4 linked regions of the Homo sapiens genome follow. The protein of the gene in region 1 purifies or fractionates together with the protein of each later gene. This does not show direct contact. Each region holds a gene or a part of one and is shown on either strand. Other genes may lie near its edges.

Evidence for each region.
Region 2: the proteins of ZMAT4 (region 1) and CRYBG1 purify together in Homo sapiens (affinity purification with mass spectrometry; one large-scale study listed by BioGRID and IntAct). This does not show direct contact.
Region 3: the proteins of ZMAT4 (region 1) and MARF1 purify together in Homo sapiens (co-immunoprecipitation; one large-scale study listed by IntAct). This does not show direct contact.
Region 4: the proteins of ZMAT4 (region 1) and SUPV3L1 purify together in Homo sapiens (affinity purification with mass spectrometry; one large-scale study listed by BioGRID and IntAct). This does not show direct contact.

Annotation. Positions count from the first base shown.
Region 1 is NC_000008.11:40,530,799-40,534,389, reverse strand, and holds part of ZMAT4 (zinc finger matrin-type protein 4), read left to right. Parts: intron 1-2,151; coding exon 2,152-2,167; 3' UTR 2,168-3,591.
Region 2 is NC_000006.12:106,517,653-106,521,243, reverse strand, and holds part of CRYBG1 (beta/gamma crystallin domain-containing protein 1), read right to left. Parts: intron 2,114-3,591; coding exon 1-2,113. UniProt on the Homo sapiens protein: May function as suppressor of malignant melanoma. It may exert its effects through interactions with the cytoskeleton.
Region 3 is NC_000016.10:15,601,608-15,605,198, forward strand, and holds part of MARF1 (meiosis regulator and mRNA stability factor 1), read right to left. Parts: intron 2,792-3,591; coding exon 2,561-2,791; intron 597-2,560; coding exon 384-596; intron 1-383.
Region 4 is NC_000010.11:69,178,856-69,183,033, reverse strand, and holds the start of SUPV3L1 (ATP-dependent RNA helicase SUPV3L1, mitochondrial), read right to left. Parts: upstream 2,801-4,178; 5' UTR 2,743-2,800; coding exon 2,472-2,742; intron 515-2,471; exon of another isoform or gene 380-514; intron 1-379. UniProt on the Homo sapiens protein: Major helicase player in mitochondrial RNA metabolism. Component of the mitochondrial degradosome (mtEXO) complex, that degrades 3' overhang double-stranded RNA with a 3'-to-5' directionality in an ATP-dependent manner.

The sequences.
Region 1 (3,591 bases):
AAGAATTTTCTTCTTGGATTGGATGGCTGCGTGTTTATTAATAGCAGTGAAATTTTCCGTGTTCTTTTGTATCAAATGGGATGCTGACTAAAATATGAAGTAGCCTTTCCAGCAAAAATAACAGTAATGGATGAATAATTACAAAAGCTATAGGGAACTGAAAGACATTTTAATTTGTCATTATTTCTATGTATTCAGAAAGGATCTGAATAATTACAATGACTATAAAAAGGAAGAATGTGATATTTTTCCTCATTATGGGATTAAGTTCTTAATATACCACTTTTACTATAAGTTTAAAAAAAAAACCCTTTCATCTGATTTTCTCTAACTATGTAATCATGACTAAAGACTGTTTAGCTGTGAATATTTGGTCTTCTTACTGTTACGTGAAGATGCTGTCCTTCAAACTCTTTTTAATCTCAAAAGTGTTCATCTTTGCAGTTTATAAAAATGAAATTATACTTATTTGCTCAGTGAGAACTTTCAACCCTTATGTCACATTAATTTTTGAAGATGACAAGGACTGTTGAATTTCTTTAGGTCATGACCGGATGGTAGCAGAGTATGAGATTCTAAAACAGGATTTTAATTTTTATAACAACTACTAAAAAGTGGCTATAGCTACCAGGGTCATGCTAAGGCAAAATTTCAAACATTTCAAAGCTATTTTTAAAAATATGCATATAGTCTCAATTTTTTTAGTCTACATTATACCAACAATGTTCAAATTCTTATTCAGATCCTAAGAATATTCTATGACAGCACTGTTTTTGGAAAATGAAATTTCAACATATGCTCTGTGTTTCTAGGTGAGTGATAGAATTTTCTTTTGTAGCTTTTGAATTTTCATTTACCAGACTGCCAGTGAGACATTTGGACCTTAGCGAAGGAAGATGGGAAAACCTGTGAAAAGAGTCTAACCTGCTCTAACACTTTTGCCACCCTTCCCTCTAAAATATTCTTTAAGGGAAACAGCCACCACTAGAAGATGCTTTTCCAGCAGCTTCCTTTCAGCTGGAGCACTTCTTCAGCAGCATGCGAGAAATCCCCGGCAGAAGATGTCAACAAGCTCTCTCACCTCCTGCTTATGAGTTTTTCCAGGGTTCAAGTTCCACTGCTTAACAGCTGTTTGATCTTGTGCCATTAATTTAGCCAAGTGAAACCTCAGTGTTCTCACCTTTAAAAGGGGTGGAAATGGCACACATAGTAAAAGTGGTCTGTGGATTAAATTAAAATGTAAAGTAAATGTAAAATTCATGACTCGTAGTAGGCATGTTGTAAGAGGTAGTATCTTGTTGTCATAAAGAAAAAAACAAAACTAAAAATCCTTCAAAAATTGGCTCTCAATTTGATTAAATCAATACTTTTTGCAAGTAAGGCCAGAAAGAATTTTTTTTTTTTTTTTGACATGGAGTCTCCCTCTGTTGCCAGGCTGGAGTGCAGTGGCACGATCTCGGCTCACTGCATCAGGTTCAAGCGATTCTCCTGCTTCAGCCTCCTGAGTAGCTGGGACTACAGGCATGCTACCATGCCCAGCTAATTTTTGTATTTTTAGTAGAGACGGGGTTTCACCATGTTGGCCAGGATAGTCTTGATATCCTGACCTCGTGATCTGCCCACCTCTACCTCCCAAAGTGTTGGGATTACAGGCATGAGCCACTGCACCTGGCCCAGAAACAATTTTTTTTTTCTATTCTTCTAACAGAGAAAATTCTGAATGAGTGGACAACGAGGCTTATATTAATTTGAAATTTAGCCACTGTAATGTTGCTCTCCACTTTCAACAAGAGGGTTCTGCATGTAGTTATACCTGAAACTTAAAGATGGGTGTATGCAGCATGCCATAAATAAAAATCAATTCATTATTTTTATTTAAAAACATTTGGAATGAATTTAGTGTCTGGATTGACAATGTAGAGCTATACATTTTCTTGTACGTATGTGGAGATGGCATTAGTAATGGAGATATTTTATATATACAGGTTATTTAGAACCTGAAAGATTAACTTTACAAATTCAGATGCATTTGAATTTGATGGTTAAGGTAATATGAGAAGTAGAAGAGAGACAGGGGGTGGGGGGGAGAAAGAGGTGTTGGAATTTGTAATTATGAAAGAAGGTAACACTGTGTTTCCTTCTGTCTTATAGCCTGAAGAATAAGTAGTGAAAGCATCAATCAAGACATAAGAACAAAACATTAGCATTTCTCTGCCGTGGAGAATTGCTTATCAACCACCAGAGGAGGCTTCTTTCTTGAACAATAAACATTTCTTATAAGGATTCACAGATTCACATACGACTGATCTTGATTTTTGGAAATGAATGAGGTTTCTTTTTTCTTTTTCCTTTTTTTAATTTTGGGGTAAGTTATGATATTTGGATGGATTTTTAAATTCTTTCCTGATAACATATTTAGCACATGTTCTAAATTATAATCCTATAGCAAACAGTTGGAGCATTATTCAAACTGAAAGTGGAAAAATTTAAATTTCCAATTTATTCTAGATTTCCTCAGAGCATAATTATTCTGTTAAATCCTCAATGAGTGTGATGTAAACCACCTCTATCCAGAAATATACATTCTTTTCTCATCATGTTGGACACAGTTGAGGGTGACATGCACAGAACTGGAACAGATCACTATTAGTGGAAAATACCAAATGGACAAATAAATACCAGTCGTTTTCTCCGTTCTCCAAGCACAGGAGCCAGGTTTACCATCTGAACAATGAAGACGAAGGGAGTAAATAAAGGAAGAATTCTCATCTTTTTTCCTGATCATTCAAAGAACAGTTTCTCAAGGTTAAGCCAAGTCCTCCTTGCAAGTTGCCAAATAATAGCTTAGGAAAAGAATTAGTCTGCCTGCATGATGATCTTCTTAGGCAAAAACGTCTTCACAGCCCTTGACCTTGGTGAATTTTTTTCCCCAAAAGCATCCAAAAGAAGAATTATAAACCCCAGAATGAGATGGAAATAAACAAGTATTTTTTTTTATGATGTTTGGCCTGAACTGTGGGCTTTAATTGGGGGATACTGATCGTTTGGAAAGAAGTGAGAAAATTCTGAAGAAATGGCGGCCTTGGGCTAGGCGGGGTCCCCTATTTCTTCTGTTTCTCACTGAAGTCCTACTGCTGAGCCAAGACTCAGTCACTCTGGAAAGAGCATGACCGATAAAGAAAACAGTTCCTTTCTGATGGGGAGCGTCTGAGTGCAGATCATGAGGCTCTTTCTCTAGGTTTAATTCTTTTCCATGGTGACCGGACTTGGTGTCTTGTAGCCTGGTTACGAAGTGGGACGTTGAGCTTCTACTGACGATGCCCTGCATGGACCAGCTGGGATCTGGCTGGGGCTGCCCTGTGTCCCTAACGACCATAGGCAATCCATCTTCTTGTGTCAGCAATTTCTGGACACCCACTGTTTTCCACCAAGAGCTGAGGTGGCAACAACTCAGTGAGCAATAAACAAAATGACACAGAAATGCACAGTGTTGTTATGAAGGAGCCTGTTTACCTGTGTTCAAAATCTGGCACCATTCCCTTGAGCAGGGCCCGCTCAGGAGGGACCAGGTCTGCCAGTTTCTGTGCCTGC
Region 2 (3,591 bases), on another chromosome or scaffold:
TGAATCCAGATCTTCTTTGGTTTTCTCTTTTTGCGGGTATTTTTCCATGTGGCTTGGACTTTTCAAACTGGAGTGTGATGTACTTGACGAGTTGAAATTGAAGACCTTTAAGGAGTTGTCGGGCAGAAGATTTGACTGTTCTTTGTTCAAACCACAGGGCGGGGCACCCTCAGTCGTGGGCTGTGACACTGAAGACTGAGATAGGGAACCGTTCTGAGAAGTACTGAAAGCCGTGGTCATAGTGTTGACTGATGTCACAGAAGGAGAAAAGATTTTGTCTTGTGGTAAAGAAGATAACAAGCTTGAGAAAAGTGCACTTTTTTCTAGTCTCGATCTCTTAATGCCACCATTTGTGACGTCCCTGTTCTCTTTGTCATTGATTTCCGGCATCACCAGAGGCTCACTGTTCCCATTAGTGTTGGTGTGCAGGGACTTGAAGAGGACGCTCTGTTCAGCAGATGCACGTTTGGGTCTCAGTTTGGATTTTGTGTCAAGGTTCTGCATCAAATGTAAAGCCGGTGACATTTCTGGCTGACTTTCCTTCTTCTTCCCCAAACCAAAGGTAAACACTTTGGGATCAAACACCTTTTCTAAATGGTCTTCGTGAATAGGAGGCATGGCAAAGTGAGGAGCAGGAGAGTTTGGCATCCTGGCCTTCTTTCTTTTCATGGGCATACAAACTGCGCTATCCATCTGTTTTATAATTTCAGTGAATTTTTCCATATCAGAAGAAGAATCAAATACACTATCATCACTACCAGCAGAAATGTTCAAAAGGCTGGCAGGGCTATCCTGGCCATTTGTAACAGTCTGATCTGGCCTTTGAGGAGTGGCTAAGTGATTTCCGCTGCTGGGAGAGTTGGTGGGACTGGATTCAGCCATCAGGGGTGTTCTGCTGCCCTGACTTTGAGCCTGAATAGGCAGAGTTTTCTCTGATGCTGGCGGTATGACTTGTGGGCCAGATTTTGCCGCGAGCTCTGCTGTGCAATGAGAGTGTTCATTGCCCAGTACTTCCTCTTGTGGGGGAGCACAACTTGCAACGGAAACCACTTCAGGTTCATTACTGTGACAAGTTGGCAACTGCACTTCTCTAACTTCAGAGCTCTCTGGGATGACCTGGGAGCTCACATCCTGGGTGCTCTCCACGGGGAGCACGAAGGACCTGACCTGGACGAGGACTCTGGATGGACACTCACTTCCCACAGCTTCTGGACTACGCTCTGTGGACAAAGGAGGGGTTGTTTCTCCTCCAAGTTCTAAAAGTGGCATTTTCTCATTGTTCTGACGAGACACAGGCAAAACACATCCTTTATGGTTTTCTGACACTTTTAGATCAGTGCATGGGAAACTGCTTATGGGTGATTGAACACATGTGTCTTTGGGAACATCCCCAGGAGCGGGTGCAGACAGTGAAAGAGAAGGCCCAGGAGATGACTCAGCAGGGGACTGTGAGTCAGAAAATGTATGCTGTGGCTTTGGCATGGCCGTTGGAGGTAAATCTTTGGTATCCACAGTGGTGGGGATGTCTTGTGCTGTATCGGTTACATTTTCAAGTACAAGGCTTTTGCTGTCTGCAGCCTCTGAGTCCTCCTTCTCTAAGAGCTTATGATCCTTGACAGGAATCAGAGCAGAAGCCACTGGTTCTGAAAGGCAGCCAGCATCTGTTTGTACATCTGCTTTATCATCTTGGTTAGGCTGAGGACCAAGAGCTTGATTCTCAGAAGAGTCTCCATTCATTCCTCTGGTTGCTGGCAGAATCTCTTCTTCCGAGACGGTAACTTTGGTTTCTATAGCAGTTTCCTTAACCAGCACACCATTCTGGGGACTGTTTGGCATTACTTTCTTTTCAGGTTGCTCCATTTCTTTGGCTTTTTTGGCTAAATTCAGCTTTGCCCTCCCAACAAACGTTTTACTAGAGGCAGGAGTATTCCTTTGGCCTCGAATGTCAGTGTGTCTTGGGCTACTGTTTGTCCGTTTGTTTTCAAATAAGGAGATTTTGGTGGCAGTGTTGCCTTTGTGAACTGGCTGGCTAAATGGATTGTGCTCATTTCCCAAACTGTCAAGATTCTTAGGGGTTTTAAGATTTAGTTCCACATGTTTGGGCTTGGCAGGGCTGTGAGGAAAAAGCAGGAAGATAAAGTTATTGACCTAGTTTTAAAAAGTGAACACACAAACCAATTAATTATAAAACTATGAAAAGCCAACATCTCCCTGATATATAACATTTGGAGTGTGGTGTGTGTGTGTGTGTATGTGTGTGTGTGTGTGCGCACACATGTGTTTTTAAGACAAGGTCTTGCTCTGTCGCCAAGACTGGAGTACAGCAGTGTGATCATAGATTGCTGCAGCCTCGAACTCCTGGGCTCAGGCAATCCTCCTGCTTCAGCCTCCCAGGTAGCTGGGACTACAGGCACATATCACACACCCAACTAATTTTTTTATTTTTATTTTTTTGTAGAATGGGGTCTATGTCACCCAGGCTGGTCTCAAACTCCTGGCTTCAAGCAATCCTCCCATCTTGGCCTCCCCAAGTGCTGGGATTACAGGCATGAGCCACCATTCTCTGCCACATTTGTTTTTTAATGAAACTATTTTTAAATAGTCCTAAGTACACTACCAACTATTTTTAATGGGTGTTTTGCTTGCATATGAGGGATCGGAAGATTATATAGCCAAGAAACTCTAGGGATGAGGGATGAACTAATTTATTGAGTACGTAGCATGTATGCACAGTGCTTGGCACTAGAGTTGGAAGACATCTTAAGGCCTGAACAACATTAGAAGAAATTTAAATATTTAATGCATTCTCATGCTCCAACATCAATTATGTATTTTTATTTTAGCATAACTTTTTAAATATTATCTCAAAAGGATAGATTTTAAAAATTCATCTACTATTGACCGCTTTGGATATTTTATTCATCTCATCCTTCCCCCATAAGATTTTCTCTGATTATAAGTGTGTTCACTATAGCAACTTTGGATAATATTTAAAAATCACTGATAATCCTACCAGTCAGACAATATCCCTGTTAACATTTTTATATGTTTCTAATCTTTTTATATGCATAATTAAATATTTTGAATAGAATTGAGATTATTCTGTTCATATAATTTGATATCTTGCTTTTTCAAGAAATAAAATGACTTAACCTTATAGTTAACATTTTTCAGATTACCAAAAAATTTGTTTGAAAAGTTGTCTTAATGCTGCATGGAAGTCCATCATATGGATGTACCGTCATTTACTTATCAATTATGCAACTGTTGGTTTTGTCACCACTTCTTGGGCAAGAGAGTCTCCCCTCTCTCCGTCACATTTCTTGGGTATAATTACCCCCAGTGGAAATAATAAGTCTTTGAATGTACACAGTGCTTTCTTTCAGAGAAACAAAATGTGCTCTGTTTGGCATTCTCTGGCTCTGGTCCTGGCTTTTATGCTAATTATCTGTGTGAACCTGGTCAAGTTACTTTACCTCTCTGGACTCTAACTTCTTCATCTTTAAAAAAAATGAGATGGTTTAGAACAGAGTTGTTTTTATTTCCCCCAACTTATGGTTGAAGGAATCCCTGGGGTTCTCTTCAAGGGCT
Region 3 (3,591 bases), on another chromosome or scaffold:
AGGCACATCCTTGAAGGTTTTGCAACAGGCTCCCCAGGCTTGGGAAGTGGGCCCTGACACGGCCCTCCTCAGCGCGCCCACTGCCCTGACCGCCCTGACTAGTTGCCTGCTTGGGGGTCTTGACTCTCCCATTAACCAACACCTTTCTAGAGTTACAGCCTGAAACTTACTCACCTGGCATATAGGGATTTAATAAAGGTTTACAGAAAGAATCAAGGAGAAATGCTAAAATCATTTACTTTAGACCAACAGTATGTTTTGAAAGGATCAATTCAAAATGCCTGCCGTTCCATTATTCTGGCAGCATTTTATTTTTCTGTTCAGGACAGTTAGCCTGTGGCTGTTCAGAAGATGCTCTCCCGGAAGCTGAGAAAAATGCCCACCTGTGGAATTGCTCCCAAGAGCTCCTCCACGCTGCTGTGGCCGTAGGTCTTGGGCTGCAGAGTTTCTCCGACATACTTGGTATAGGCCATGGAAAACTCATGAAGGAAAATCTGCTGGTAGTGGTAAGTATGAAGTAAAGACCGCACATTCTTTGCAAACAAATACAGACTTGTGAGCTTCACACATTCTTCCATCTTATCATTAGTGAAAACCTGGTTAAAAAGAAAACGCAGCATTAGAAATATTAGTGACTGGCCCTGCCCCGTGGAAAGTGAAGGCCTCCCACTGAGGGAAAAGGCCCAGAGTTGAAGACGAAGACAAAGAAGAAAAAGAAGGCAACGAAGATGAGAAGATGAAGATGAAGAAGGAGACAAAGATGACGAAGAAGAAGGAGACGACAAAGATAAAGAAGACAACAACAAAGAAGATGAAGACAAAGACGACGAGACAAAAACGAAGATAAAGACGACAAAGATGAAGACAAAGAACAAGAAGACGAAGACAAGACGAAGACGACGATGAAGAAGACGAAGACGACGATAAAGAAGACGAAGACGACGAATTGGACAAAGACAAAGATGAAGAAGATGAAGATGACAAAAAAGACAAAGAAGAAGAAAGGAGGAGGAGGAAGGAAAGAAGGAAGAGGAGAAAGAAAAGGAGGAGGGATATATTCAAGGATTTCCTCCAAGAGAAGGCTATAGCCTCCAGCAAACTTCAGTTCTATTTGCAAGTCGAAGGCTGCAGCGGTCTGAAGAGACAGTGTGTGAGTAGGGAAGAAATCGGGGGAGGCAAACTGTGTTGGCAAATCACGGTACACACAGTGAACACTGGGGCCATTAAACTGCACCTCCAAACCAGTTTTCCAAGAAACACTGTGATAAGAGGATGACACTAGCATTCTTTAAAAACACATCAAAAGCAACAAGAAACAAACACAAAACCCTTGTGTATGCAGGGTAAGGAAGCAGATTTCTTTACCACAAACCTTTTCAAAGTGTTTAACATGCTATGGAATCGCCAAGAGAAAGGATATTCCCAATCTTAGCTGGACAGGGAAAGTCCTTTGTCCTGAAATATGCATTAACACCTGTCCAGAACTGGTGTTCTTAGGATAGATATTAACAGAGTTTAGAAAATGCTGGATGTATATCCTTTCATTATTTAATGATGTGTCCCACAGTTAGATGATAATGGCATATCATTCTTTTAAATTGCTGGAGCTCATTTGTTAATATCTTATTTAGGATCATTTTAAGGGACTATCTTATGTTTTTGGTATTAAATTTATTTTGGCTTCGTAAAAATAAATGGTAAGCTTTCCTTTTTTCTTTTTCAGCAGCCTAGAACAGTATTTTTTTTCTTGGGGATGGGTTCTTGCTATGTTGCCCAGGCTGGCCTCAAACTCCTGGGCTCAAGTGATTCTCTAGCCTCAGCCTTCTTAGTAGCTGGGATTATAGACGTGTACCACCTTGCCGGGCCCCAGAATGGTTTTTTAAAAGGTAGATTTATCTGTTCTTTTAGGGTTGGTTGAAATTCAATTGTTATCTCACTTGGTCCTGATGCCTTTTTCACTGGTATATTTCAGTGATCTTTTATAGTCTCTTTTATGGTAATTGGTCTAATTTTTAACTTCTTGAGTGAATTTTGGTAACTTATTTTTTCCAGGATTTCATTTATTTACTCTAGGTTTTTATATCTGTCGCCCGAGAATTGCATGCAGTATTCTCTTAAGATTCTCTCAATCTTGGAGCGCCATTCTTGAAAGGCTGCCTGGGGGACTGGCTGGCCAACCTTCCTTTCTGCCCTCACCTTACTCATCTCTCTCTTCAAGCCACCACATAAACCATCTCATTCAGAAAGATAAAACAGTAGCGAAATCCATCCTGGAATGGGACAAACACACCCCAGAGCCAGGATCAGGAGACCAGGCTTTCATCCTAGAACGGGACAAACACACCCCAGTGCCAGGATGAGGAGACCAGGCTTTCACTGGCTTCTGCCACCCATTTAGGCAGGGCTGCTTCACTGCCTGAGGTCTCGGCGTGTTCATCCATGAAATGGTCTCTCGGGTCCCTTCCAGCTCTACACACTCTAATCTAGACCATCAGGTAATCCGGAAATGCCCAATCGATAGTTTTCAATGATAGTTCTAAAGAGCCATTAACGTGCCTACCTCAACCAAGTATGGCAGGCTCTTCAGCAGTTCGGTCAAGGTCATGAATCCATATTCACAGGGGTTAAGGGGAGTGTTGTGGGTACTTTCGTAATGTCTCTTGAGCTCCTCAACAGAAAGATGGGTGGTTCCTTCCCAAGACATCAACAATACCAGCAACTGGGCAGTGAGAGATCGCAGAGACTTTCGGTTGATCAGCTGAATCTGTCTGCCAGATTCTATATCGGCAACCTGGGGAAAACGAGAATTCACACTTTTCAGAGCTCAAGAGAGACACCCTAGGTTATACCCAACTCAGCTCACTTCATTTTGGTTAATGAGACCAACAGATGAAAAATCTCTAATTTTTTTCTCTTACACTGAAATAAAGCAAGTGGGTTTGTTTTTAGCGTCTTTGGGACACCAGACCAACATGGAAGCAGAAACTGTCCTCCCCCTGCCGGTCCATAACTGAAAACTCTCAACAAGATAATAATGGGGGAGGAAATTGCATCATTCTCTTTATTTTTCATTCATTCTTTCCAAACCCCACTATAAGAAGGACACAGACTGGCCAGCTGATGGCCAGTGGTCCAAGCTTGTGAAGTGTGGGTTGCTGTGCTCGAAGGGGGGTAGGGATGGGGAGGCTAGACTCTAAGCAACACTCACATGGCTTCTGTGCAGACCCGACTTGCCCATATGCGTCCCCAGGGCGGGCTGGGGAGGTGAGAGAGGGCCTACTCTGATTACAAGGCAAGCTGCATTTTTCTAGTCTGCTATTACTCACCACAAAGCTGGTATTTTCATCTGACTAGTAACTGTCCACTCCTCAATTATTTCAGATTCTCAAGGAGATAAAGGGTTTAAGCGGTTAAATGCGCTGAGAGGGAAACCTTACAAAAAAGACAGAGATTGTCACTTGGGGACCAAACACCATGTGAAGAAACACGCATCTGGTGACTGAGCCAGCAGGCTGTGGGTGGCGAGGGTGAGGCTGTGGCGTGAGCCTTTCCTGGCACAAAAACAGGCAGAGCTTTGGCACACACACGGCT
Region 4 (4,178 bases), on another chromosome or scaffold:
TAGGCAGCGAGATATATAGGTCCAGGGTGAAGGAGAGAGGTCCAGGGTAGAGACAAAGATCTGAGAGGAATACTGAATTAGTGAGGGGAGAGAGAGAATGAGACACCCCATAGACAGCACAGAATAAGGCAGCAAGGTGACGCAGGACAAAGCCTTTAAGTACCTCAACTTTTTGGGTTATGAGTAGGCAAAAGAGATTGAGAAGTGACAGCTTCTTGTCCTGATTGCTAAGCTAAGTGGAAATCTGACACCTTAACCACATGGCTATATCAGAGTGTAGTAATGCACCATCTTCTGTAGCCCCTCCTGCCATGCTGAAAAATCATTCTAGTAAATTCAACATCTGGACCAATCCCAGTCAAAGGAGATGAAAAATCACCTGGCACACAGACCCAATGAAGTATCTAAGGATTCTCCACCAGAAGAAAATCTAGTGCTGACAAACCCATGTCTTTATTCTATCTTCTTACAGGAAGCAGCAAAGACATTTACATTTTCAGGTGAATTGGAATAGCTGCAGAAAATAAGAATTTATCAATATTTGAATACAATAAGGCAAATTATCTCATCCAAATTACCTTATGCCTTCAAATAATATAAAATAATGGAAAATTGTTCTTTAATGGGTAAACTATTGTTTGAGTTTCAACTCTGCAAGATGAAAAAGTTCTCATCTATTTCGCGACAATGTCAATATACTTAACGCTAGTGAACTATGTGCTTAAAAACAATTAAGACTGGCTGGGTGCAGTGGCTCAGGTCTGTAATCTCAGGGCTTTGGGAGGCCATGGCAGGAGGATCCCTGGAGCCCAGAAGTTTGAGACCAGCCTGGGCAACATAGCAAGACCCCATCTCTACAAAAAATTAAAAAATTATCCAGGCATGGTGATGCACGCCTGTATTCCTAGCTACTTAGAAGGCTGAGCCAGGAGGATTGCTTGAGTCTGGGAGTTGGAGGTTACAGTGAGCTATGATCATACCACTATACTCCAGCTTGGGTAACAGAGCAAGACCCTGTCTCTAAAAAAAAAAAAGTAAAGAAAAAAAAACTAAAAAAAAGCTTAAAAGAGTAAATTTTATGTATTTTTATAATTTAAAAATAAATAATAGTATAATTACATTATTAAAATAACACATTCTCTGCTATGGTTTGAATGTCTTCTCCAAGACTCATATTGAAATTTAATTGCTATTTTAACAGTTGAGAGGTGGAACCTTTAAGAGGTGATTAGGACATGAGGAGTTTGCCTTTGTGAGTGGATTAATGCCATTATCACAGGAGTCAGTTATCACAGGAAAAAAGGATAAGTTCAGCCCCCTTTCTCTGTCTCACAGGCTCATTTGCCTTTCCACCTTCCACCATGTGATGATGCAGCCAAAGGCCCTCATCAGATCCCGGCTCAGAACCATGAGTCAAATACACCTCTATTGTTTATAAATTACTCAGTCTCAGGTATTATGTTATAACAGCAGAAAATAAAGACAGTCTCCCAGCACCAAGTAAAGTGAAAGGCCTTGCTTAACACTGGAAGAATATGTCAAAGAATAACATATACTGTGAGTTCCATCACATGTTTAGTGAAAGTACTGTACTTCTGCTCTGAAAAACATATTGTAGTCTATATTTTAGATTTACAATAGGAGGCACCAATGTCGCTTGTTGAAGTGAGACATTTCTCCTCCTATTCCTGGAGACAATTCTGGATAGCATTTCCTCAATCTCCCAGTTTCATATGGTCAGAGGAAACTCCCTTACCTCCCTAATCATCCCGAAACTCACCTTGAAAACATTCACATGCCTCTCTGTCAACGAATCCATCCAAACTTAAGTTTTGCTGAGCAAAGCCCGCTGCCACTAACTGATGCTACCTCTTCTTTTCTCTCTGGAGCCGGGGACACCCTACCTTGTTCTAGACCTTGTCATGTTCTACCTTGTATTACAGTTCACTTTCCATACACGTGTCCTCCCCCACGATACCGTTACGTTTCTTAAGAGGGGATCTGGATCTGAGTCTGGTTCCTCTTGGCAACCACCACACAGCCTAACAGCGTGGTATGAGTCGGCGCCTCCTCAATGATAAAGAATCCTAAAAGGAGTCTCCGCTGGCTTTTCACTGCCACATCCCATTCGGGGGTGGGAGAGAAACAAAGAATGCAAGAAAGAGCGGGCGTCCACCTAACAACTCAAAAAAGTCAAATCTTCCCAACACATGAGTGTCTAAACCATTCAGAGAGCAGGGCAGTAAAAGGGAAAAGGCCGCTTCTGGGACGAGGCGTTAAGAATTAATCAGATACAGTCCTAAGCCGTTTGAGGGGCTCACACACCAGCGAAGGAGGCAGACACTGAGAGGCACGATGACAACACTCGATGGGACCTCGGATCCCCAGGGGAAGGGGATGTAGCTTCCTCCCAACCAGCCTCGGCCCAGCAGACACCACCCTCTGCCGCCCTCAGTAGTTCCCGCACTCACTCTTGTCCAGAGGCCGGGTTAGCTCGGCCCCGACGTCGCCGTCGGCGCTGGGGCCCTGAGGTTTCACAGTCAGGGGCACGAACAAGGACGTGTTTGGTATTTTGGAGCCACCGGAGGCAGAGGAGGAGGCGGTGGCAAGGACAGAAACTTGCCCCAGAACCCCGGGAAAGGGCCCAAAGTGGGGACGAAGGGCAGAGCAGATGGCTGCCCGGTGGCCAGCCTGGCGCCCCGCCGGGAGCCGAGCCCACAATAGGGCACGGGAGAAGGACATCGAGGCCGCAGGTTCTACACTGTCTGGCGCAGCCGCGGACACGGCGGCGGACAGTGACGCGCACCTCCAGCGCCTGCTGTCCAGAAAGACCCAGGCCGAGCAGGTAAGCTGCCCGGGAAAACGCCTGACCGTTAAGGAAAACGCCGTGCCGTGAGGGTGTTCTTTCAGGGAAAAAGAAGATTAGCAGGCAAAACCACTAGAGATAATTCTCGTTCTCTTTCTCTGTTTTGTTGGTGATTGGGACCACCTTTCCCTAAAGAAGGGAAAATAATCAGGCATCTTTGGGATGTCATACATGAGCGGAGGGGGCCTGCTAGTCGTGTCACGTGATGCAAACTAGTACTTTGGTAAGCAAGTGTCCAGAAGCACGTGGGTGAGCAGTGAGAGAATGGGTGGTGGAGCAGCAACTGCGAATGCTCAGGGTACGAGTATGTCTTGCGGACTCAAACACTAAATAGCATTTCCCAAAAGTTTCTTGCATTGTTAACCGTCATTTCCTGATATGATAACGTTAGCGATAATAACTTGATATGCCCCTCAGAAATGTTGCTAAGAAATATTGTTGCACTATTAAACCCCTTGTATTACGTAAGTACTTTTGCTTTAATGTGAGCAGTTTGCGTACATCATCCTAGCAGCTATGACCACATAGTTGTGACCACATGGCAAAAATACGTGCTCTGTACCCCAGCCATAGTTTCGTTCCATTGCATTTGTTGAATACCGTGTTCTCATGTGAGGCTGCAACATGTTAAATTCACAAGTTTAACCCGGGCGTGGTGGTTCACGCCTGTAATCGCAGCACTTAGGGAGGGCGAGGCCGGTGGATCATCTGAGGTCAGGAGTTCGAGACCAGCCTGGCAAACATGGTGAAATCCCCTCTCTACTAAAAATACAAGAATCAGCCGGGCGTGGTGGTGCACACCTGTAATCCCAATTACTAGGGAGGCGGAGGCAGGAGAATCGTTTGAACCTGGGTGCCAGAGGTTGCAGTGAGCCGAGATCGGGCCACTGCTCTCCAGCCTGGGCAACAGAGTGAGACTCCGTCTAAAAAAAAAAAAAATTCACAAGTTTAGCATCTCCATCCACATCTCTTTATACTTACATCATTAAGATCTTACAACTTGAAGGAACGTGTTATGTAATATACAATACTGTATGTCTAATAGGATTCCAGTAACAATTTGCCACGTGCCTTTGATTCACAAAATAATTTTTAAACATCAGGGATACAAGGAGACAGTCCTTTGCTTTCAAAGGTTCTGATCTGGTTTTGGTGGTAAGAACAGTACACGTTAAATAATGCACTTATTACTCTAATAGACTAATGGCAGTTCAAAGAAAGGAGCAATTTGAGAGTGGTAAGGAGATTTCTGCCAGACTTAAAAGTAAAACATAGAGAAGCGGTAAGTAAATTCTAGTCAGTGGAAACGATG